Linked DNA regions of Homo sapiens: region 1 is linked to region 2. Evidence: fine-mapped expression QTL. A gene starts in region 2. The other region holds a variant in brackets. All regions are shown on one strand. Distances are between the middles of the regions.

What was found.
Region 1: its variant is fine-mapped to the expression of DHRS12 in whole blood (INTERVAL, PIP above 0.99).

What each region holds. Positions count from the first base shown.
Region 1 is chr13:51,837,274-51,849,662 of GRCh38, forward strand. TMEM272 (transmembrane protein 272) reads right to left here and starts at 7,904. Exons shown (of 5, transcript NM_001351003.2): 1 at 7,743-7,904; 2 at 1,200-1,280. The coding sequence starts at 1,257. RefSeq lists an enhancer at 11,905-12,389. The variant T/C (reference allele first, on the strand shown) is at 6,129.
Region 2 is chr13:51,798,253-51,810,641 of GRCh38, forward strand. It overlaps DHRS12 (dehydrogenase/reductase 12), which reads right to left and starts at 5,911. Exons shown (of 9, transcript NM_001377533.1): 1 at 5,802-5,911; 2 at 1,282-1,415. The coding sequence starts at 1,407. LOC107984561 (a long non-coding RNA gene) reads left to right here and starts at 5,584. Exons shown (of 2, transcript XR_007063805.1): 1 at 5,584-6,549. RefSeq lists enhancers at 4,227-4,276, 6,662-6,791 and a silencer at 5,472-6,111.

The sequences.
Region 1 (12,389 bases), 39 kb after region 2:
TAGGATGTGTGTTGGGGGAGGTGGTGGTAACTAATTTCCCGAAGATGTAGAGCAACAATATAGCTGATGGTGTCTCCTTTCCCTGCCGGCAGTAAACCTATGAGTTTTCATCCTGCCAGAGCATCAGAGGCCCTGGGCAGAGACTCCAGCACCACTGTCCCACTCTGGCCCTCACAGCAGTAGGTGTGCTCCAGGGATGAAAGGAGGGTGGCCCTTAGAGCTGTCCCTGGGAGTAAAATGTCAGGGCTGTGCGTTAGGAGAATGAGATGGGCACTGGGCCCATCAGCGAATGGAGAAGGTCAGTTGTATCTGGGAGGTGGCTCTTCACTCATTTACCTGCTTAGTCAGCCAGTGCCTATTTATTGAGCTCCTACTGTGTGTCAGGCACTGCTGGAGGTGCTGGCATGCAGCAGTGCAGGAAACGTCATGGGAGGAGAAGTGGGAGGTGGACAGTGTGTGCTAGGACATGGTAAGTACAGGTAAGGAAAGGTGCCCAGGCACCCATCTGTCAGCCCCTTGTTCTGCTGACCCTCCACCTTAGTCCGCCACTACCCACTGACTGCAGCTTCCTGATATTAGTGCCTGGAGATGAGTTGCTTAAGGCTTCCCACAATGTTCCCTTTATCCACATTTCATCTGTAAAAGTTAGACCATACATCTCACCATGATGTAAAAGCTTTCATCCCAGGGACCCCCAAGGCCTGGGATCTGATTTTGGGATATTCCAAACACAAGACAGACTGGGTCTTCTGTAATATGGTCCAGCCCCTCTGGACAGAAAGGACCCCAGCAGGTGATAGTGGGGGAATATCCAATTTAGTAAGGAGACAGGTTGAGGTAGGAGTAAGGGAAAGCTACCCAGGTCCAAGGTGTCACATTGCCCTGCCGTGTTGCCCAGCACGGCTGCCATCATACACTGATTGTAGCAGTGACTCCGTTCACATGCATATTTTTCAAACACATATTACATGGAAAACACATACAGTGAACTATGGAAAACTAAAGATGAATTGGTAAGGAATGGAAGGAGAAAGCAGCCAACCGAGGGCCGGACACTGTCTTCCCCAGCTCTACCACCCTGGGGCCACCCCATACCAAGCACAGCCCACTCATATGATCCACTCCAGCTTTAGCTCATCGGGTGATCCCAGAGGTCTCAATCCTACAAAACCAGGGCATTTCTCAGAGTTGTGACTCACCATTGCTGGCGATTTTAGAAATGCACTGATGACACGTTTTCTCCAGACCTCCTGGCATTGTTCTTGCTCGCTGACAAAGTTCTGAGGATCAAAAATAATTCATTAGAAAGGATGGTGGAAGGATTTACTCAGCACCAATAACCAACCCTCTCTGTGCATGTCAGTGGTGGCCTGCAGGGTGGTCTCAGTCAGCCCGGGTGGCCTGGGTGCCAGTGTCAGGTGTGGCCTTGTTAGTGGTTAGCGGGGCTGAGAAAAAGACCCCCTATTCCACAAATGAGAGAACCAAGCTCAGAGAGGTTAAGAGGCTTGCCCAGTGATACCAGCCAGGAAGACACAGGCCTGGAGGGGGAGATGGTAACAGCTCTCACTTGCTGAGCAATGGCTGCAGCCAGGCGTTGTGTTAACTCTTTAAATAGGTCATCTCATATTTAATCCCACAACAATCCTATCTGGGAAGTGTTACTGACTCTGTTTTACAGATGGCGCCTTAGAGACCCTGAGAGCTTAAGATTCACCCTAAGGCCAGAGCTGGCAACTGGCAGAACCCAAACTTGATCCAGGTATGGCTCCAGGTACAGAGCAAGGGCGCCCTCACTTCCTGACGCAGCTGCTGCACTCCCCAGGGTCCAAGCGGAAGAGGAACCATGGACTTGACCAGAGCAGCCTGGGTGGAGACCCGAGCGGCCTGGAGCACCACCCCGGCTCCCCTGTGGACCTGCTGTGGTCTGAGCAAGTTGGTTGACACTGTGAGAAAGGGCTTCCCTTCCTTGGAAGAAACAGCCATATACATTTTAAATCCACAAAAAAACTCCAGCTCATCAAGACGGCAAATTTTCCTGCCCGGTGAAATGAGGTAGCCCCGTAAAGACACTAGGAGAGGAAGGGAGTCACTTTGTTCCTGAGGCTGGGTGTGCGTAGTTCCACCACTTCCCACCACGTCATTGCTTGGGAGTAAGGCCTCCATGGGGGCTGGCTGATCCAGGCGGGATCTGGGGCAGGCATCCTTACTTCATACAAAAGTCTCCCCAGGAACCTGTCCAGAGTAGCCGCGGCTCCATTTAAAAGCACGATTTAACAAGGTCCTTGTTCCTCATACTGCAGGGGTTTGCAAACCAAGGGACCACAGCATTTTAGCAGCACTACCTGCAGGCCCTCCTGGGTGAACTAGGGCTTAGGGCAGGGGGAACAGGCCGTGATGGGGAAGATTTGTGGTCTGAGGACAGAGATGGTCATGATGACAGAAGGAGAGCTTGCTTTGACCAGAGCTGTGGCTCATAGCAGGCAAGTCACTCCACCGCCAGCGTCAGCATGGGCCTGCAGGCAGGAGCCATGCAGCCCGCAGCTTCTCTCTGCAGCTGATCCACTGCTAGCACACAAGCACGGTGGTTGGGCTGAGACTCGGGGTTCTTATTTCCCATCACTGTCCTTCTAGGACATGTCATGCTCAAAACTTGGCTTTATGTCAACAGGACCTTTATGGCAGGAAGCAGTGTGACCAGAGATAGTCAGTCCCCAACCAGAGGCATATCACCAGCGCCCTGCCAAGGTCTTCCACATGTTACCTAATTTAGTCTCCTCAGTTCGTATGCCCCATTTTACAGAGAAAACCAAGATTCAGATCAATTTGTTTGCTCAAAGTCACCCAGCTAGTAAGTGGTAGAACTGGGGTTTGAAATGAGGCCTCCGAGACTCTATCTGAAACCTGGACTTTGTGCCTTCAAAGCCCACAATCTCTCCACTTCACCCCAGAGCAATAAAGGGGAAGAAACCTGGAAAGGAGAGGCTTCCCAAAGTGAGTCAGGGATTAAGCAAGGAGGTCACGGTGCCTCCCTGGTCAGTCCTGTCATGCTTGATCCTATTTAACCAGGCAAAGATTCTTATCCCCATTTTACAGATGAAGAAACTGAGGGTCAGAAAAGTGAAGGACTTGCCCAAGATCACACAGCCAGATTGGAATCCAGGTGTCTTAAAATCTGCCAAACTTGAGGTGCCTACTCTCTGTTAACCAGAACGGACTTTGACAGTTTTGACTGCAGTGAGATGATGGGACACAGAGTGGCAGGGCTGAGCACCCAAGGTTTTCTGACCCCCCAATCCCTGGGAATCCCAAAGGCAGCGCTTTGGATTCCAGGGGTCCCTCTGCTGTTTCTGCCTCCTGACGCAGGCTCCCTGCCCACTGTTCTCCTGGAAGCAATTGTGGGGGATGCGCATGAGTCTGTCTCCCTGGCATGCAGTAGGTCTTCAGTAATGTTTAATGAATAATTCTATGAACTACTATTCAAATGTCTCTTCACAAGGCTCCATTTTCCCCCACAATGTTCTTGCAAAAACTGTGGCTGTGATGTCCTTATACACAGAAAATCAGGAACACCACAGCCCTGAGGAAACCACAGCCTCCTTCCACATCCTTTGACTCGGGATTCTACCGATCAAGGTGAAATGAGACCAGTTCTCTGGCCCAATGGGGTTTGCCAGGTGCACATCCGTTTGTTACATAACAAGTAGGCCCCAAGCCATGGACAAATGGCTACTGTATGAATTACAGATTTATTGTTGATGTCCACACTTCATGAGGTTGATTGCCACACGGGTGTCACAGAAGCTAAGCCACTTAAAACCCTGCCTGGAAAAACAACCCTCCTGGATCCAGTGATAAGCCCAGTTATCTAAAGGGGCCATGGCCCATCACGGCTCCTAAAGGCCCGGAAGGTCGGTTCCTTTCCTCACCCTTCTTAGGGAAAACAGAGGGTGCACTTCACATAACAGGGAGAGTGTGTACTTCACATCTTCCAGCCACGAACCACAGCATTTTTCTCCTGGATCACAGAAGGGATAGAACAGAGGGAGGAGACACAAGAGCCATCTCTTTACACTTGCCTGGTGGAGTCGCCACTGATTTACAAACTTCCTTTGAAATGTGTTGAACGGTTTCTATCAGCGCCTACAAACTAAGACATTCCAGTCTTCAAATCCACAGCAGCTTTGCAGAAACTAACGAGATGGGTCTGTGTCACATTATAACAAGACATTTCTACCTTGGGCCATTCCCTGGGGTAAGAGGTCACGCTTTAATCTCCTGTGAATCCTGAAGAACAATGTTTCACCACAAAAAGTAATAGAGCTGCATATACATTTTTTAATGCAAATGTCCTAAATTGGCTGATCCCTTTAGCCACTAACTGCAAATAAGGTAGAAACATCAATTTGAAAAACAGTGATATCTTTATTGATAATATCAGACCACAAGAGGTGGCAGCCAATAGAACACACCAACACAAGTCGCAGGTATTAGATCCATTTTATAAATGAGGAGACTCTTATTCTTTCAAGCTTGTTATTTTCATAAACTGGCAAGATGGATGAGAACTAAAAAAAGAATGATGTGCTGTGAATTCTGTCACGCCTTAAAGAATGTTCCCTAAGAGACAGGTAGCAGTGGCAGTAGAACTCAGCTTTGGCATCCAGCCCGAAAGGGAAGACAGAATTCCCAGGTACAGTCTCAAATGCTGGCCGACAAACTTTGCATATTGTGTTCAACTTCCCTTACAAGGAATAAAATGTTAAACACACACACACACACATCATATGACCTCGTGCATGTAATAATGTCTGTAGATCTACGTAAACACATAGAAAAAGATCAGCAGCATAAACACTAAACCACTGTGAATAACTGTTCCCTATGAAGGCAGGTACAGGGATATGGGGCCACTGGGGCTGGGGTAGGGGTAGGGAGGAATGTGCCGCAGGCAGGCGTGGGTAGTATTTTCATTTCCACTTTATACCCAAATATTGCCTTGCCTTTTCCCCCATTAGCAGGTTTTACCATTATAATTTTAAACTTCTTTTTAAAACCTCTTAAAATTCAAGAAGTATTATTTGAAATGAAAAGTAGTTTGCTTTCCAAAAGTCCAGAGATTTTTAAAAAGTAGCATGTAGGAGATAGATAAGCAGAAAAGGAGTAAGTCCACCAGGGAGCAGACACAAAAAGAAGAGAGATGATGTGATGGTGGTAGGCAAGATTTTTCTCTTTTGGAATACTTTCTTTAAAAATTACAAAAGCGAATTCACAGAAAAATTAGATCAAGGAGAAAAGAAAATCATTAGTCATTATAAACAACTGCAGAACTTCCAGCCCAACTGTTAGTATTTTGGAGCTTTTAAGTATATGCATATATACATATGCATATGTGCATGTACACACATTTTACATGGTTGCAATAATCAGGCACATTAAGTGAACACATCACATTTTGACATAAGCATTCTTTCTGTTACCATTTGGTCTTCAGAACTCTCATTTTCACAGCTGAATTATATTTCACAGAGTACGCTATATCAAACTATATTTCTCTATATCTTCTTGTTGGATATTTACTTTTCACTCAAGTAATCCTAAGAGACATTTCTCTCCATGAAAAGTGCTTTGTTTCATGCACACGTAGATCTCTTGGAATAGTTATGTAATTAAAAAGCATAAGCAACTTTTTGGATTTGAGGTAAAATTGACTTATAAATGAGCTGTATCCATTTCCAGTGCCACCAGCAATATGAGAGTGGCAGTTTCACCACACCTAACCAGCACTGGGTGGCTGAAAGACTAATGCATTTTTATTACTCTCATAGGCAAAAGTGGAAATTAATTATTTTAATTTACATTTTTGATTGCCAGTGATATTTTGCCAATTCTTTCTAGGCTTATTTCCCAGTTGTATGTTCCCCCTTGTGATTTGGTTTTTATGACCCAAGATATGGATTTATTTCAATTCAGAGGAAGCCCACAAAGAAAGCTGCAATTTGAGAAAATAGCAGTGAATCTGCTTTTTGATTCACAGAATTCACTGTGTGAATTTGCAGATTCAAATACACTACAAAAGACCTATTCACTATTATGGTGGGGACTTGAACAACTCACAAAAAACTGCACGT[T/C]CCTTGGAGCCCTTTGAAGCGGCAGCTCTTCCAAAAGAGGGTCCCTCAACAGCAAGAGATGCCCAATAGAGCAAATACATACTAATGATGGATTCATGTCAATGCAATCCATTAAATGATTGACTAAAATCTGTAATGACACAGATTTTAGTCAATTTCTATACCTTCTATATCTTCTACTAAGAAAACGTACATTTTTTCTTATTTGATAGAAAGTTTTCTTATTTGTTAGAAATCTGAAACAGGAAGAGATTGGGGTAACAGGCCGGGCAGTGCCTTCTCTCCAGTGTGAACAAACAGTGACTTACAAGTCTATCCTTGGGCATGCTGTGATAGGACTGTGTGTCTCACACCTGCCTCTGCACCTAGAAGGGCAGTGATAATAGCCCCTGCTGCTTCCTCTCCTAGCAGCTGAGTGATAATAAAGGGCACGATGGGAATTAATCAATAATAATTGCCAAATGATATGCTCAATGCATTTTCAATTTTCAGTCCAATTGATATATCTCAGTGGTTCTCAACCAGAGGTGATCTGATCCCCAAGGCACATTTGGCAATATGTGGAGACATTTTTAATAGTCATGGCTGGAGCAGGGCTGTCGATAAAGAGACCAGAGATACTGAAAAACATCCTCCAAGGAGCAGGGCAGTCCCCAACAACACTTATCTGCTCCAAAATGTCAATAGGACTAGGTCTGAGAAACTTTCTATGTCTGTCTAACATTCCCAGTTTTAGAGTTCAAATTTGTAAAATTCTACTTTTGTTAACCTCTGAGTTGTGTCATGAATCAACAGTAAACATATATATATGTATATATATGTGTGTATGTGTAGACACACACACATATATATATATGATTGTGTTTTTACTGATTGGCTTGGTAAATTAAACTATTTATTCCTAAATCAGCTGTGAGGACCAACTCACTCTTGGTTTTGAATAACATTGAATATTAGACATTAACCATCCCCATACCTGTTCCTTCAAAGCAGATGTTAACTAGTATTGTTGAATATTTTCAACAAACATTTCGGGTGCTCAGGACACAGTCCTTTCTTATCTGTAGCTCTCTGTGTAACCTGTGCTGTTTTCTCTCCTAACCATGCCCGAATGCATGAATTCAGTGGAGGTTATCGCATACCTACTGTGTCTCAGAGTCATTCCACAACCTCCCTAGGATGCCTTCATTGTTTGGCTCCTAGGAAATGAAAAATGCACTTCCTTTGAGCTCTACCACCCCTTTAAAATGACCAAGTCAAAGCCACTTGCTCACAGCCCCAATAGGTAAGACATGGAGGTGATGCCTGTGGTCCCCACTCGCTGTCCTGCAGCCGGTAGGTTGTTTCTAAGAGTCCCACACAACTTGCCTTCGCCCTGCAGTTAATTATTCCTTTACGATTGTTCTCTTCTCCAGAAAACCCATCTCCCTTAGACTCAGTGAAGATTGTTTTCGTTCCCTCCACACAATTAAGAAAAGCACTTCCACAATGTAGTCATTTTCTTTCCAGGAAGCATAATCAGCACATTGGCATCTTCCTAAGAATGATTTCAAGAAACCCTCTGCTAGGACTGTCTCTCCAACTTCACAGGCTGCCCAGGGTTGCCGGACTCACCTGAGCTAAGCAGAGTGGGATCCAGAATCGGGCAGCACTCAGCACCTCTGTGGTCCCGAAGTCCAGGGCTGCCTCTGTGGGGCTCCTCTTGACTTGGGGCTCCCACTCCCTGTCGCACGCTTTCTTTCTCCCTTTCTCTCCTGCAGCACAACAGCAACTCGTGGCTTTTCCTCTAAGGGGCGGGTTCTCTCCATTTCCCACTCCCACGTGTGGGGAGAGCAGCCCCACCGCCGGCTCATACCCCTGCAGTGTTCCCCAGGCCCGCAGGGGGGCAGCAGAGCGACCCTGGGAGCTGTGGAAACATGGCCGACCCCTTGGAGTTAGGAATTCCCGCGGGAAACATTTCATTTCAGTCCCTTAGGCACTAAACCTAGGGACTTAGTTCTGGTGCGAGCCCCTTCTCACCCCTTGCCCTCCCTGCATGTTGGTGGCACACGAGAAAGGGTGGACCGAACAGCGGCTGCTTAGGAAAGAGTGTGAAGGTACTCAAAGTGGGCTGAGGTAATGAGAGGTGCCCTATGGACTTCAGGACTGCCACGTAGAAAAGGGATTAAATTGATTCCGAGTCATTGCAGACGGCCAGATCTGAGATAGAATGAAGTTACAAGAAGGCTGAATTGTGCCCCATGTCATAAACTTTGTAACAGTGGCCTTCTTAGACCTGAAGCAGGCTGCTTTGTGAGGCTGTTGTGTGTCTGTATTGTAAGCAAGCACCTAGCAGTAGAAGTTCTCAGCTGCTGATTTATAAGAAGTGCCAGAGATTCTTTATTGAAATGCAGATTCCTGTACCACCTCCCAAAGATTCTCAATCTGTAGGTCTGGGCCTGGGCCCAGGAATCTGCAGTTTAGACTCTGCTAAGTCTCCTGTAGGTGCTCCATGGACCACACTTAGAGAAACTGGCGTCACATGACTTAAAGGCATTCTCCAACCCTGACATTCCAGGTTTTTTGTTGTCATTTCGGTGGAAAAGGCCAGTCTACTGGGGAGGGACTGGGGGAGGGACTGGTGTGAGGCAAGAGAAGAGCCTATTATGTAAAATGCAAGGAGCTGCTCCCTCTGAAGCTACCCCTGCATTGCACACCCCTGGGAGGAGGGCACCTCTCCGGGCTCACTCTAGGGCTGGCCCTGCCACTCTCCCAGTCCTGAATCCAAGGTGACCACTTCACACCACAGGACAGGGTGAAGCAGAGGAGCAAGGGGAGGAGAGCCTGCTAGAGGAAAGGACATACAGTCACAGTCATGAGCCACATAACAATGTTTCAGTCAATGATGGACCACACAGATGGTGGTTCCTTAAGATTATAATGGAACTAAAAAATTCCTATCACCTAGTGATGTCATAGCAGTCATAATGTTGTAGTGCAACACATTACTGATGTGTTTGTGGTGATGTTGGTGTAAACAAACCTACTGCACTGCCAATCACATAAAAGTAAAGTACATACAATTATGTACAGCACATGATACTTTACAGTAATAAAAAACAACGAAGTCACTGCTTTATGTATTTATACTATACTTTTTATCATTATTTTAGAGTGTACTCCTTTACTTATATATATTAAAAAAAGGTTAACTGTAAAAATGCCTCAGGCAGGTCTTTCAGGAGGTATCCAGAAGAAGGCATTGTTATCATAGGAGATGACAGCTCCTGCCTGTTATTGCCCCTGAAGAACTTCCAGTGGGACAAGATGTGGAGATGGAAGATAGTGATATTGATGATCCTGACCCTGTGTAGGCCTAGGCTAATGTAATGTATGTATAATGTATGGGCTAATGTATGAGTCAAAATTAAAAAAAATTATAAAGTAAAAAAGTTACAGTAAGCTAAGGTTACTTTATTATTAAAGAAAAATATTTTTAATAAATGTAGTGTAGCCTAAGTGTACAGTGTTTATGAAGGCTATAGTAGTGTGTAGTAATGTCTTAGGCTTTCACATTCACTAATCACTCACTCACTGACTCATCCAGAGCAACTTCCAGTCCTGCAAGCTCCATTCATGGTAAATGCCCTATACAGGTGCACCATTTTTTAATCCTTCATATCCTATTTTTACTGTACACAATGTTTAGATACACAAATACTATGTGTAGTATTTTCTACGTTTAGATACACAAATACTTACCACAGTGTTACAACTGCCTACATTATTCAATACAGTAACATGCCATGGTCTCTGGCCTTTTGGGAACAGTACTGGTCCCTAGCCTTTTAGGAACCGGGCCCCACAGCAGGAGATGAGTGGCAGGTGAGCAATCATTACCACCTGAGCTCCACTTCCTGTCAGATCAGCAACGGCATTTGATTCTCACAGGGGCACAAATCCTTCGTGAACTGTGCATGCCAGAAATCTAGGTTGCACACTCCTTATGAGAATCTAATGCCTGATGATCTGAGGTTGAACGGTTTCATGCCAAAACCTTCCCCATCCCCACCCTCATGAAACTGGTCTCCGGTGCCAAAAAGATTGGGGACCACTGGGTGTGTAGTAGGCTATACTATGTGAGTTTGTGTGAATACATTCTATGACCTTCACACAATGGCAAAATTGCCGAATGTCACATTTCTCAGAACATATACCCATGGTTCAGTGATACATGACGGTACTTGAATCTTCTCTTATCTCACACTGAGTGAGTGGAAGCAGAGTGACTGTGAGCAGTGAGGTCAGAGTCTTAAGGCTTCCCTGCCAAAGTGGTGGGGGTCTGGGAGCACACGGTGACCATAAGCCTGGCCTGGACGTGGCCAAAAAGGGGCAGCAGTCTTTTTTGAGCACATTTTAGCCCTGACATCAAAACAAACAAAATTTCAGGTGATGAGGCAGTCTTCCTGGGAGTTCAGGAAGGGAGAAAACAATGGCAGGTCACTCAGGAGCTTTTCCACATGTCCCCAAACATGCAGCAAAACATCAAAGAATATTTTTCTGCCAACAGACAACTGTACTTATGAGTACAGAAATAGGAGATTTTTGTGGGGGAGAAAGTAGGAGTCTTTGGAAAGTGATTATGAGACTCCAAAGGTAATGATAAATGATAGTAATAATAGCTCTATCAGTTAAGAAAAACGGGGAATCTGATATGGGGAATTAGTTACAAGAGCCACGGAAGAGCTGAAAAGTCATGCACGATGTCGTGGTGGAGTAACCCAGAGATTAGCAACTGACAGTGGAAGCAGTTGCTAACCCTAGAGATGTGAGTGGAAGACCACCACTGGAAATGCTGCCCAAAGCAAAGTAGGTGCGATTAATACCCCCACTTCACAGATGAGTAGCATAAGGTACAGAGATTAAAGGCATATGGCTACTAAGTGTGTAATGAACTTCAATTCAGGCCACGTGATAGAGTCCACATATGGCACCACTCCACTATTGCCATATGAATAAAGGGCACATTAGGGGAGATGATAGTAGAATTGAGTGAAAGTTGAATTCAGAGTATAAATTTTTAAATGCTTGTCTTTAGTTGAGGTGGTTCTCCTCATAAAAGTGAGTTCATTCATTCATTGAATGAATACTGCTGACTCCAAGCCAGATACTGTGAATAAAAAGATTACTTAATAAAATCCATGTATCCTATAAGGAATTTTGATGCAAAAGAGTAGTGAGTGAATGAGCACGTGCCTGAGTTTAATTACAAAGGCAACTGTGAGTTAATGAGGGTAGGCCTGACTTCTTGATGGAAGCTGTAGAAATGAAGGGAGATGCTAAAGTTGCCCAAAGACCAGGTTGTGCACCTCCAAAAGGAGCAATCAGAAAGCCAAGGGACACTGATGAGTGTTCACTCTCACTCTTCCCCAAGATTGCACAAAAGTTTGTCTTTGTCTTCGTCTTTGCTTGTGTGTTATTCCCCAACAAATTAGTTCTATGTAAACATCCTAATTCTTTTCATGCTTTCTTTGGAAGTTTTCCATTCTGATGTCACTCTTCTATTTGAGTCACCGTTTCTATATTTACCATCTATTCATCCTGACGGCTTCCTAATTTGGGAGAAAACCTTCAGGGTCCCTCACTTCGACTTCTACCTGAGTCAAAAAGCATTTCAATATAAGTTTTCATTTTCCTTTTGACTTTTCCCAGCATTTTAATTTTCCTGAGGACAATTTAAGAAAAAGAGAAACAGAATGCATGGTCCCACAACTAGTTCACAGTCAGGAAGAAGAAGAGTTAAATGACAGGCACCCCTGACCCATGCTGCAAACTTGAGGCCATTATGCTAAGAAATAAGCCAGCCACAGAAAGGCGAATGCTGTATGACTCCACTCACGTGAGGCACACAGAATAGTCATAGACATGGAAGTAGACTGGTGGTCACCAGGGGCTGGAGGAAGGGGAGCACGGGGAGCTGCTGTTTAAGGGATGTGGCATTTCAGTTTTGCAAGATGAAAAAGATTGGTTGCACAACAATGTGAATATTCTTAACACTACTGAGCTGTACATTTTTCAGTGGTTAAGATGTTGAGTTTTATGTTATGTGTATTTTAGCACAGTTTAATAAGCAAACAAACTCCTGGATCTGAGAAGCTGGGGGAGTCAAGGCCTAACATTCTAAGGGCCCTGTGGAACCGGGCAGTTGTCCAACATGCTCCAGAAAATCCCGGGGTCTCTTCAGCCCCAATTTCAGCGGTCGCAGAGGCCCTGTGGGAGGAT
Region 2 (12,389 bases):
GGGAGCTTTTAAAGATCTAGGCGATAGGCCCAGGACTGGGTATGTTTTACAAGCTCCCCTGGTGATGTAATGTTCAGCCAAAGTAGACAGCCACTTGCCTAGCATGTAGTAGAGACTCAAGTATTGACTGAATGTTGAGTCCATCAGCAGCCCTCATATTATCCCAGCAAATGCCACACCATCATCAATCAAGGTCAATTTAAAGCAGAATGCCTTCGCCGTGGCAGCTAAGAACGAATCGTTATGGAGTCTGCTTTCTTTACTAAAAATCACCCACTTGATTAAATGGGGTGTTTCATGGGAGGCTACAGGCTAACCACAACACTAGCCCCTCTTCTCTCCTCCTCTCCGCACTTCAGAGTGCTTCCCAGCTGCTAAGATGCAATTAATCCTCTCCCTGACTTGGCAGATAATTAAATAAAGCTTCAAATGATATAATAGTCCCCTGAAAAATGCCTAACTTGGATTTAGAGAGAGGAAAAAAGAAAACATCTTCAGCATCTTAAAAAGTGATAAATTCACAACCTAGTTCCCCACCTTCTGCTGGAACATCCATTTTTCCTGAAGAGGCTCTGGAGAGATGCAGCAAACTTTTCTAGCCACTGCAGAGCCATTTGGTGACCCAGGATCGTTGAGCTCATGCAGGAAATTCTGGCATTTACCATGAGGAAGACTTCTGCTGACTGAAGACTTTACAGTGCACCTGAAGCACCTCTTTATAGTCAAGCTTAGGGGAGGGAAGCGGGAGGCTGCTCTAGCCCTGGAGGCTGGACCCCAGCAAGGAGGAAGTTTAGTTCAATGCACTCCTCTCTCCAGGTATTTTGGGGGCCTTGGTTCATAACTACCATCCACATCCAAATTGCAGTGGACTTTGAGGCTCCCCCTCCCCTTGTCTCTCACCCCAGGAGAGTCTCATTGAGAAGACATGAGTTAGAGACCAGGTGTTCATGTTTTTGTTTTTGTTTTTTTAATTAAATTCCACTGGGGATTCTGATGTCCAGGGTTTGCTTGAGCCCCTCGCTGTTCTTAATCAGAAAACACTGGGACACGTGGGCAGGACCCCAAGCTCGCCTGAGAATTAATTAAGTGTTGAGGAAAGGGCTCCTGTTGCTCTAGCCACCTGGAGCTCAAAACTCAGAAAGCTGGCAGCTGTGCCCAGAACCATGGGATCGCCGTCCAGGACTTCCTGGCCTGCCTGTGACACAGGGTGCCCTCCTCAGTGTGGACCGGCCGCAGTCTGGCCGTGGGGCTCAGTGGACACACGTGTTAGCAGCTGCTTACCTCGCTTGGCGATTTCAAGGGCAGTTGCTTTGCCAATGCCGCTGTTTCCTCCAGTGACCAAAAAGACTCTTCCAGGAATCTGGACCTCCAAGTCATGAGGGACAAAGTCTTTACATGCAGATTCATAGCCACTCCTAGAAAGAGGAGACCCACAGGAAGACCAGCTGTAAGGAGTGGGGAACACAAACCCCTGCAGGAGAAAGCCTAATTCTAGGATGGGCATTATTGCTGTCTCCGCCTCTCCCAACACATCACGAAACTCCTTTCTCCCTTGCCCTCCCTGCTCTCACAAACACCACTATCTCGGGGCCTGCATTTCCTGGACCATGATCTTTCCAAACTTTTGAAAATATTGGAGATTCCAACATTTTGGCATCCAAATTGTCTTCCTCTGACTGCCCCGATCCTGGGGAGTGGCAAAAAGAAAAAAAATCCCTTGACAGATGAATTGCTCTTTTCCCTTTTGTGGGGGGCAGGTTTCAGGAAGCTTAGGAGACCATTTGCATTGTGCTTATTGCATTGCAGGACAGATATCCTTGCCTACTTGGAGAAACGGGGGAGATTTGCAAGTAGGGAATAAAGGAGGAGGATGGTAGAGTTATTTAAGCTCTGCACCCATCAGAGGAAGCCAAGGCTCCTTCAGGGACACAAGGTGTGCACTGCACAGCTCTAGGGAGTGCCATTCGGATCAGAATGATGGGATATTTGTATCTGCATTATGATAATGTTCTGGCAGGTGGCAGAAAAGCATATTGCAGAAGAGGTATTTTTTCTGATTTGCACAAAGGCATCATATTGGATAGATGCAATTGTGAGTTCTTTAACTGTTTCTTTTTCCCATTCCTTTTGCGATACCTCTCTACCTTTACTCTTCTAGTATTTCCTGGCTATGAAATTGGCTAAGGGCAGTGGTGGCAGAATGGTGGGGTTGGCAGGTGGAGGCCCAGAGGGCAGACTCTGCCCACGCACAGGCAGGCTGGGGTCTCAGAGCTTACATCTCTCACCTACGGAGCCGAGAGATTTCTCCTGGGCAATGCAGGATGGGACTCTGATCTCAAGGCTCCACAGATGCTGAGAGCCCTCCCACAGGACCTGTTTACAAAAGGGTAGCCAACAGCTGGCCTCCTGCCCCATGCCCTGGTACAGCACAACTGCCAGTTACATGCTCTGGAACTCGGGGAAGTGGCCAAAGGATGTTTATGAGCTTGGGTTTGGTTTGAAAGTCATTGCCACGGGGCAGGCATTGCCACTTGTTTCAGTCAAGCCAGATGTTCTTAAGAGAACAAGAAAAATGTTCCTGTTTTCACCATCTGTAACTCACCAGAACATGCAGGGCAGCTTAGAGAACACCCTACCCATTGCTTCTGCTGTGAGTGGCAAGCAAGACTTCTTATTCCAAAGCCTTCCCAAAAAGGTTGACTTGAAACTTAAAAATATCAGTAACAAGGGCTTGAACAACCTGGGTTTAAGTCACAGCTCAGCCTCTTACTAGCTGTGCCATCTTGTGTGTTGATTTAACCTTTCTGAGCTCTTATCTCCTCATCTGCAGAAAGGGAATAATAAGAGATACCTCTTGGGCAGCCTAAATGAGATGCCGCATCTAAGGCACTTATGACAGCACTTGGAACATATTAGGAGCTCAATAATTAGCAGCTGACATTATTATTTTTTGAGACAGAGTCCCACCCTGTCGCCCAGGATGGAGTGCAGTGGCGCGATCTCGGCTCACTGCAACCTCCGCCTCCCGGGTTCAAGTGATTCTCCTGTCTCAGCCTCCTGAGTAGCTGGGGTTATAAGCGCCCGTCACCACACCCGGCTAATTTTTGTATTTTTTAGTAGAGATGGGTTTTCACCATGTTGGCCATGCTGGTCTCGAACACCTGACCTCAGGTGATCCACCCACCTTGGCTTCCCAAAATGCTGGGATTACAGGCATAAGCCACCGCACCCAGGTGACATTATTATTATCACTATTAATAATGACAGTACCGTCCATGTTCACACTTGAGCTCATTTGGCCCCCAAGCCTTCAAATCAGTAGGGACTTTGAGAGCATTTTAAACTACAAAGAGGAAACTGGAAGATTTTTTTCCCCCTAAACACAGACGTGAGCCCTGGAATCTCTGTGAAAGGCTTTTCCGGTAGAGGCAAGGGCCTGAGTCAATGAATAGGGGCTTAGCTAGGAGGAGGCATTGTGGGGAATGAGTGAGAACTTCCCAAATACAATAGAGCCAGAAAAAAAGCAGTCCACAGGGAACAGGCCTGAAGAGCCCTTCTCCAGGGGCAGGAAGCTGACAGGCTTTTCTCTGTGATACCCAGTCAGAGGGGACATTAGCCTCTGGGCTCCACACTGATCCGTATTAGAGACGAATGTTTGCTGAGGCTGGCTCCTCTGGGTTGAACCTCTTCCTCAAACTCCAGACTGGGAGTGCTGCCAAGCGGGCAGTACCAGCCTGGCCTGCAGGACATGTCCCCGCCCTCTGTCCTCTGCCTTGGATCTTGCCTTCCATACAAGAATTCCATCCTGGTCCGATCTGTTGTTAATAAGACTTGTCTTTTATGTACTCTGCCCCTTATTGGGGAAGCATTTTATTTTCACTCTAGAAATCAGTCTCTAGATATCAGTCTCTATTTTTCACACACACACACACACACACACACACACACACACACACACACACACACGACTTTCCCAAGGTCACCAGAAGGTAGGTGATCTTCTTCAACACCCAGCCTCGGTGCCAAAGGGCAGTCCCCAGACAAGCTGCATCAGCATCATCTGGAAACCTGTTGGAAATGCCCTGCCTACTGACTCAGAAGTGATTGCTTGGCAACCTGTGGTTTCATGTGCCTTGCCAGTGATTTTGACTCAAGCTGAGAGGACATTTGTACTTACTGTTTCCTGAAGCTGAGGTGACAGGGATGGGGAGGAGGAAGCTGGCAGGTATCTGTGTCTCCCCACACCCTCAATTTACCCAAATATGAAATTTGCTTAGGACCCATCCACACTTGCCCAGGGTTTAGGAGTCTGTTTAAAACTGCCCCAGGGAATTATTAGGTTCAGCAAAGTTTAGGAAACAGTGATTAGATCCTCCTGCCTTAGGAGCCCAATATAGGGAGGCTTTATAAAAATCCTTGTGCCAAGAGAAACGTTGTAAACTCTAACTCCGCGCTCTCACACTGAAGTCAAAACAAGGTTGTTGTTTTTCTCTCCTATTCACTAAATCCACAACAGCAGGAAAACCCATCTAACTTTGCCAACTGCCTTCCCCTCCCCTCCCTTCCCCCACCAATCTGTGGTGGATTGGGCCCCTTGGCCTCACTTCTACCTTCCCTCAAGGTGGGGAAATCAGAGCGAAAGAGTCCTGGGAGAAATTTTTACAGTCTGCTTTCCTTGGGGCCCACCCCTGGTTGGAAACTGACTTAAGCTTTCATGCTGTGTAATGTGGAAAGATCCAGCAATTAATGGTCATTGCCAGAGGACACCCCTTTGAAAGAAAGAGGCTGCCACTGTATTCCCCTAAAAACTGTGGGACAGGGCTCACGACTACACTCCCCACCATTCTCTGCAGCAGGGGCTCCTGAGACAGAGCTGAACCTTCTCCAAAACGATGTGGGGTGAAGAGCAGGGAGTTGCAACTCCTACCTCCCCTAGGAGTGCTGGCCAGGTTGCCGTGGGAACTGATAAAGCCCCAGTGCAGGGAGAAGCCTCTCAGAGGTGAGAATCACCTGGGGCATTTGGATGAAATGCCAGTCCAGGCCCCTGTGCAGATCCACTAAATCAGAATCTGTAGGGATGGGGCCTGAAAACTGGGTACTTTTAATTCTCGCCCAGTGATTCTGATGTGCAGACAGGGTTGAGAACCAGCGGTTAGCCTAATCAATTCTAAGAGAAAACCTCCATCTCTCCTCCGTCACAGGAACCTGTCACCTCTTAAAACCACAATGAGGTGGAGAGCCAACTAGGGCACACTGAGCGTGGTCACGGGGCGACGAAACCACCACGCACCGTTCCCCAGAAGCACACACTGGCTGGAAAGTTCCAGCTGGAGCCAAAGGTCGCAGTCCAGGTGCTGCATCTTTTTAAAGGAAACACACCCAAAGGCACTAGGACAGAGCCTTAGCTAGCGATTTAGATCCAGCCCTATCTGACGCCGCCAGCAGCACCACGAAGACACTTCCACGAGCACACCCAGCGGGGCGCCGAGGTGCCGCCCAAGAGGCTCCTTGGCGCCGGGGCCGCCTGACGTCAGTGGGACGGCCCTGGGCTTGGGCGCGCCACAGCCCCGCCCCTCGGGCGCCAGTCTCGGTCGCGGGCATTGAGCGGCTGGAGTCTGGCGACTGCCCCACGCCCAGCCGTGGGTCGCTAGACGGCGGGCGCACCCGTCGTTCTGGACACGCTTAGTCGGCCCAGCGAGAGGGCGAAGGAGCCGCGGGCGCGTCCCCGCCAACCCTGCTCGCCCGCGCCGAGGCGGGCCACGTGACAGCCCGGGGCCCCGCGCCCCGCCGCGCCGCCTTACTTGGTGTACTCGCGCAGCCCCTTGGCGAACCACACGACGCTGCGGTACAGGGACATGCCGGGAGCGCCCCACGCCTAGCCCCACCGCGCTCCCGGCGCGGCCTCCGCCCTGGTCCCGCCCCCCGGGAGTCGCCCGCCCTGACATCATCCCGGTTATGTAAGAGCCGCGGCTTCCGGTTCCTTGCTCCACCGGTAAGGCAAGGGGTCTCGGGGCCGGCCGGTCGACTCCGCCCCAGCCTCAGAGGGTGGAGTGAGGGCGGACCGGCCCTGGTGGGGGCCGCAGTCGAGGTCCGCAGTCTCCTCGGGGTCGAAATCGGGCATCAGCGCCGTTTAGAGAACACCGTCCTGCTGGGCATGGCCGGGATGCGAAGATGGCCCTGCAACGCACCTCCTAGAATTTGGTTACCTAGAAAACCATGTGGAATAAAACGACGAGGCTTATGATATTTAAAAGACTTCTGCATCGAATTGGTGTTATCATAAGGGTTATTTTAATAACTGGCATTCTCTAAGTTTCTACACGTGTTGGGGGATGCAGTGCCGTGCCACATTTCCCGTCTCCAGCAAGCGCAGTCAGATTGGCGACATCGCAGGCAAGAGGCAGGGCTGGGGCTCCCACCCGAGAAGTAATTGTCTCCAAAGTTGGACTTTTGCCACTGGTTCTGCGACTTCATGCAATGCCAGGGAGAGCCCCTTGATTTCCCCCAAATCCTCATCAGCCTCTTTCCACCCAAGCCCAGATGAACAGTGTGAGTAAAAAAGAGTGTGGTTGCTGCGTGAACCCAGATCTCAGACTAGTCATCCAGCCCCATTATGTAGGACTCAGACACCCCTGTCCACATCTAACCTCCAGCCCTAACGCCACATTAGAAATGGGGGTCTTACTGCTGCTGTCACTCCTAGTCACCCTGTTAAATTCTATACCGGTTTACCCAAGTCGCCCAGAGACTGGGCCCCACTTACATAAGCTGAAGAGACCAGCTGCTTTAATAGCCTCATTACCTAGGATATAGGATCACTGTCCAACCTCACTCCACAGTGGGCAAGTTTTTACTTCAGAATAACTTTTGAAATAAATTTCCCCGGAACAGCTCGCCCCTCTCAACAGGACTCTGAGGCTCCACTACGTTGCTGTTATTCCTGACAGAGTGATGAAAGGAAATTTAAACAAGTGGCATTTTGTAAAACCACCCCAGCCTGTGTGACTTTCAATGCCTGTCCGATTTGGCTGGGAAAATATTTTAGATCCCCAGGGCTACATACTGTTTTTTATACCCTCCTCTTTGTGTCAGTGATGGAAAAGGTGTCAATCTGCTCTGAATCTCTCTGAACACCTCAGGAAATAGGCTTTTGGCTCGCAGAGAGGGGATGAGAAATAGTTTTGAACCACCAAGTCTCTTGGAGGGTGTCAGCAGCCCCTTGAAGTAAAAGTGTGGCTGCAAACCCAGCTCTCTGCATTAGCCAGGTGAACCTGAGCATGCTGCATACACCCTCAGTCTTGGTTTCTTAATATGTAAAATGGGAATGAATATGCGCACCTCGTGGGGTGGTTGTGATTAAAGGCATTCATTATAAAGAGCTTAGTTTCATACAAAGTGATCAGAAGTGTTGGTTTCCCTCCTTAAGTTTTCTTCTCATTCCTTTTTCCCCTGCGCTTACAGCCATGCAGTGTACATTCAAGAAATTTCCATGAGGGCATGAGGTGTCCAGTGTTAGCCTCAAATCAAGCATCCACGAGGTAGTTAGTGTATACATTATATACATTTAAAGAGGAGGTCTTAGGAAAAGCCAAACCCTGTCTCAAAATGAGCTTCCACTCTCACCTGGATGCCAAGTAACACACACACACAAACAAAGGGCAGTATGGAGTTCACAAGGGAATGTTCCCGTTTAACTGGAGTCAGCTGAGCTGGATTCTAGTCCAATTTCTGCCAGTTATTCCCTGTGTGACCCATGTGATAAAATGTATAGAAGGCTTAAAGTGTGCCAAGCATTGTGGATTATAGCACTTAATTCTCACACTGATCCATATGGTTACTCCTGCTATTATCCCCATTTTACAGATGAGCAAACTGAGAGAGGTTACATAACTTGACTCAGGTCACAGTAAATACATGGTGGAGCCAGGCTTTGAGACCAGGTAGTATGATTCCAGAGCCCACACCTTCCCTGCTGCATCATACTAAATGGGGGCAAGTCACTTAGCCTCTGGGCCTCAGTTTTTCTCATCTGAACAGAAAGGGGGCCAGACTAGGCGCCACCCAGGGCTCCTTTCAGCTCCAACTTTCTATACATCTACTAAGAAAATTACATATGGATGCTAAATAAGTTAGGCCCAGGGTGCTTTTAAGAGAAACGTCAAAGTGGATAGGGTTGCTTCATTTCCCAGGGGTGGAAAGCCACTAAAATATTTCTTCTGTGTTCCTGGTTCCAATTTGCCACTCAAAAAGCCAAACAAAGAAATCATCCCCCAGAGTTCCATTCCAATTGATTTAGATCCCTGAGGCTAATTTTGACCAAAATGGAAGGAGAAGCAGAAGGTGTGGAAACCCATGGCTTTCTGCACAACAGATACACATGATGAGAAGTCTGTATTCTCTTACACACATATACACACACACACACACACACAACCAGTGTTCATATCGCCTTCCACTGAAGCTCATACCAGTTCCTCTAGCCAAGTTGTCATGGCAACACCAGCTGCCAATGAGATCATGGAAGACAAGGTCATAATGGCAATGGTGCCTTAATATTTTACCTGGCAAAGCCACTTAGTTATTAAGATGAATAACCATAAGTCATAAACTCATAGGAAGCTAGGCACCATTCATGTACATGTTTAGTGTACAATTGGGGGTGGGGAATGGAAATGACAGCGAAGGGAAAGGAACAAAAAGGAAGAGAGGATGAGGCAGAGAGCGGAGAAGAAGGTCTCTGATGCTGATCCTTATTTTTCAGTGTGGACCATGCACAGGTGCTGACCCTACCTGTACATGGATTAAGGAACTGGGCTCTTCCTAATGACAAGAAGTGGGGGGCGGGTCATGGGATCCCAGCCTCAATCACAAAAGCCTTATCAGAAACCCAAGGCGACTGCTTTCTGGCATTCACTCCTAGCAGAAGAGAGCAGCAGCACAGGGAAGAGGTATGTGGTAGATACCAGCCCACCCTCCTCCCCACTCCGCAGCTGACACAGTCACCGTGTAGAAAGGCCCTTCCAGCTGCCTCCCCATGTCCCTCGGTGCCCATCATCCTTTACAGACTGGCTTGACCCAGGGCTGTCTGTTGCCCATCTGAACCAACTTCCTACCTAACAAATCAATTGGATTTAGGGGTTTCCTTCCTTTCACAAGAAGCTAATCACAATGTGGGCCTCTGGCCAGAACTTTGGCAGTGGGGAGCCGAGGCGGGAGACAGACTCAGTTTACATTGAATGCCTTCTGTGCCATTGAATTTTGTACCATGTGCATGAATCACTTACTTAGATTTAAAACATGCAGAGATCTACTTTCCCCAGCCCTGTGCACCCTCCAAGGACTGCAGACATTGGCAGTGAGATGGGCCCAAAGTGGGGCAGTAGTGAAGCCAGGGTGGTCAGTCTCCATGTAGCCAAGTTGATGGAGAAAGTGATTTTCCACAAACGGGACTCGTGTTCGTCTTAAACTCTCATGCAGCCTGCTTCTAGGGCTTCGGTTTTACGGCAAGCAAGTTCTGTTCTGAGTGCAAAAGCCGTGGGCTTTCTCTAGTGGTGCCTGGGGCAGGAGTAGCGCGAGGGCATGCAGGCTGCTTGGTGAGGTGGTTGTAGCTTGCCCTACCCACACTCTGTACCACCTTGTACCCACCTCTGGCCTCAGGAGAAGGGCCACCTACACAGGCGGGAGAGGGATGCAGACGCAAGGTGAGAACTGGGATAGAGAGTCAGAAGGCCCACATTCAGCTCTGAGGCATCTTCAGAAAAGACACTTTACCTCCGTGAGCCTCAGTTTCCCCTCTACAGAGGAGCATAACTGTACAGTCCTCACAGCATTGTAATGAGAGTGAAATAAAGAAAATTTTCTCTTATTTAACAAATGCTCTACCTACTATGTGCCAAGCACTGTTTTAATCTCCTTACCAATGAAAACGAGGCACAGAGAGTTTCAGTGGCACATCCAAGATCACACGCATCTGGAAAGGGGCAGAGCCAGGATCCCAGCCTGACGGTCTGGGTCCAGATGCCACATGCTTAACCCCTTCTCTGTAAGGACGAGGGACATGTCCCATGGTGGTGTCTCCTCATTTCTTCTTTTAGTAACTTCTGTGGGACTGGAAATTTCCACTACTGTCCCCTCCCCTTTTTCGGTTGGTTGATTTGTTCTTGGGTGTGACAGGGTAGCTTATAATTCCCACAGTTTTTTCTACCAGGATTCCTCCCACTCCCAAACCCCTAAGCCAGTGGCACTCAGAGCTGGATGCTGAGCACTGCAGTCACTAAGAGTGAGACTGGGTTTGCAGCCTGGCCCTGCATATGCAGACAATGACCAAATGACCCCGCACTGGCCAGCTATTTAATATTGAGCGACTGTGGAGGCTTGGGAGGACTGAGGAATACATTACTTATTTTTATTTTTGACTATGGTAAAATACACACAACATAAAATTTACCATTTTAACCATTTTTAAGTGTACAGTTCAATATTAAGTACATTTACATTGCCGCGCAACGATCCATCTTCAGAACTTTTTCATCTTATTAAACTGAAACTCTGTATCCATTAAACAAGAACTCCTCATTGCCCCCTTCCCCAGCCCCTGGTAACCACCATTCTACTTTCTATCCCTATGAATTTGACTACTCTAGGGACCTCATCTAAGTAGAATCACACTTTGCCTTTTTGTGGATGGCTCATTTCAGTTAGCAACATGTCCTCCAGGTTCATCCATGTTGTAGCAAGTTTCAGAATTTCCTTCTTTTTTAGGGCTGCATAGTGTTCCATTGTGTGTATAAACCACATTTTGTTTATCCATTCATCCATAGATGGACACTTGGATTGCTTCAATTTCTTGGCTATTGTGAATAATATTAATATGAACATTGGTGTGCAAATACCTCTTTAAGACTCTGATTTCAGTTCTTTTGTGTGTATACCCAGAAGTGGAATTGCTGGGTGATATGGCAATTTTATTTTTAATTTTGGGGGGACCTTCCCTACTGTTTTCCATAGCTGCTGTGCCACGTTATGTTCCCACCAGTATTGCACAAGGGCTCCGGCTCACCGCATTCTTACCAACTTGTTATCTTCAGAGTTCGTTCCTTTTTTTATTTAATGGCATCCATCCTGATGCGTATGAGATTGCACCTCATTGTGGTACATTATTAATTTTTGTTATGTAACAACATACATTTTATACCTTCTGCAATATTCAGGTGTTGCTTCCGTCTTGTATCTGTTGCCGAATATATCTCAGTTGTAGGTATTCACACAATCACACGATATTGGAAGGATAGTTTGGTCCTTAAGTAGGTGGCTTTGATTTTTTTTTTTTTGAGACGGAGTCTTGCTCTGTCGCCCAGGCTGGAGTGCAGTGGCGTGATCTCGGTTCACTGCAAGCTACGCCTCCCGGGTTCACGCCATTCTCCTGCCTCAGCCTCCCGAGTAGCTGGGACTACCGGTGCCCACCACCACGCCTGACCAATTTTTTATACTTTTAAGTTAGCCAGGATCGTCTCCATCTCCTGACCTCGTAATCCGCCTGCCTCGGCCTCCCAAAGTGCTGGGATTTTTTAATGGTTTCCTTGGTGATGGTGGGATTTTGTTGACTCTCACACTCCTGGGGAACATAGAGAATAGCATCCACCCTAATCAACCTCTCTCCTCTCAGGAGCTCGATGAGTCGTCGCGTCCAGGTGAGTCTCCCTCAGGTGCATCATGTGCCTAATCCAAAGGCCCTGCAACGAACTTCCCTAGGAGCCCAGTTCAGCCAGGGGCCTACTTAGGTACACGACAGGAGGAATGGCAAACAGTTTCTCAAACTGACCTCTCAGCTGTTCATTTGTCAAAATACAGTTTCACATTACTGCTTTTCCCATTTTGATTCACAGAAATGAGAGACCAGGCAAGTTACAGAGGATGAGCCTCTTAAAATAAGTCCTATGAATACATATTAGTCGTGTTTGAGGCAGAGCTCTGCGCTGGTAATGGAAAGAAATCCATGATCCAGGAAATAGAAAAATGCAGCTTGTCAAATAATATGAATAGTCTGACATAATTTTTTTTTCTTTTCTTTTTTTTTTTGAGACGGAGTCTCGCTCTGTTGCCCAGGCTGGAGTGCAGTGGTGCCATCTCGGCTCACTGCAACCTCCGCCTCCCGGGTTCAGGCGATTCTCCTGCCTCAGCCTCCCAAGTAGCTGGGACTACAGGCACACGCCACCACACCCAGCTAATTTTTGTATTTTTAGTAGAGACAGGGTTTCACCATGTTAGCCAGGATGGTCTCAATCTCCCGACCTCGTGATCCGCCCACCTTGGCCTACCTAAATGCTGGGATTACAGGCATGAGCCACCACGCCCAGCCTAGTCCGACATAATGTAGGTAAAAAGTACCT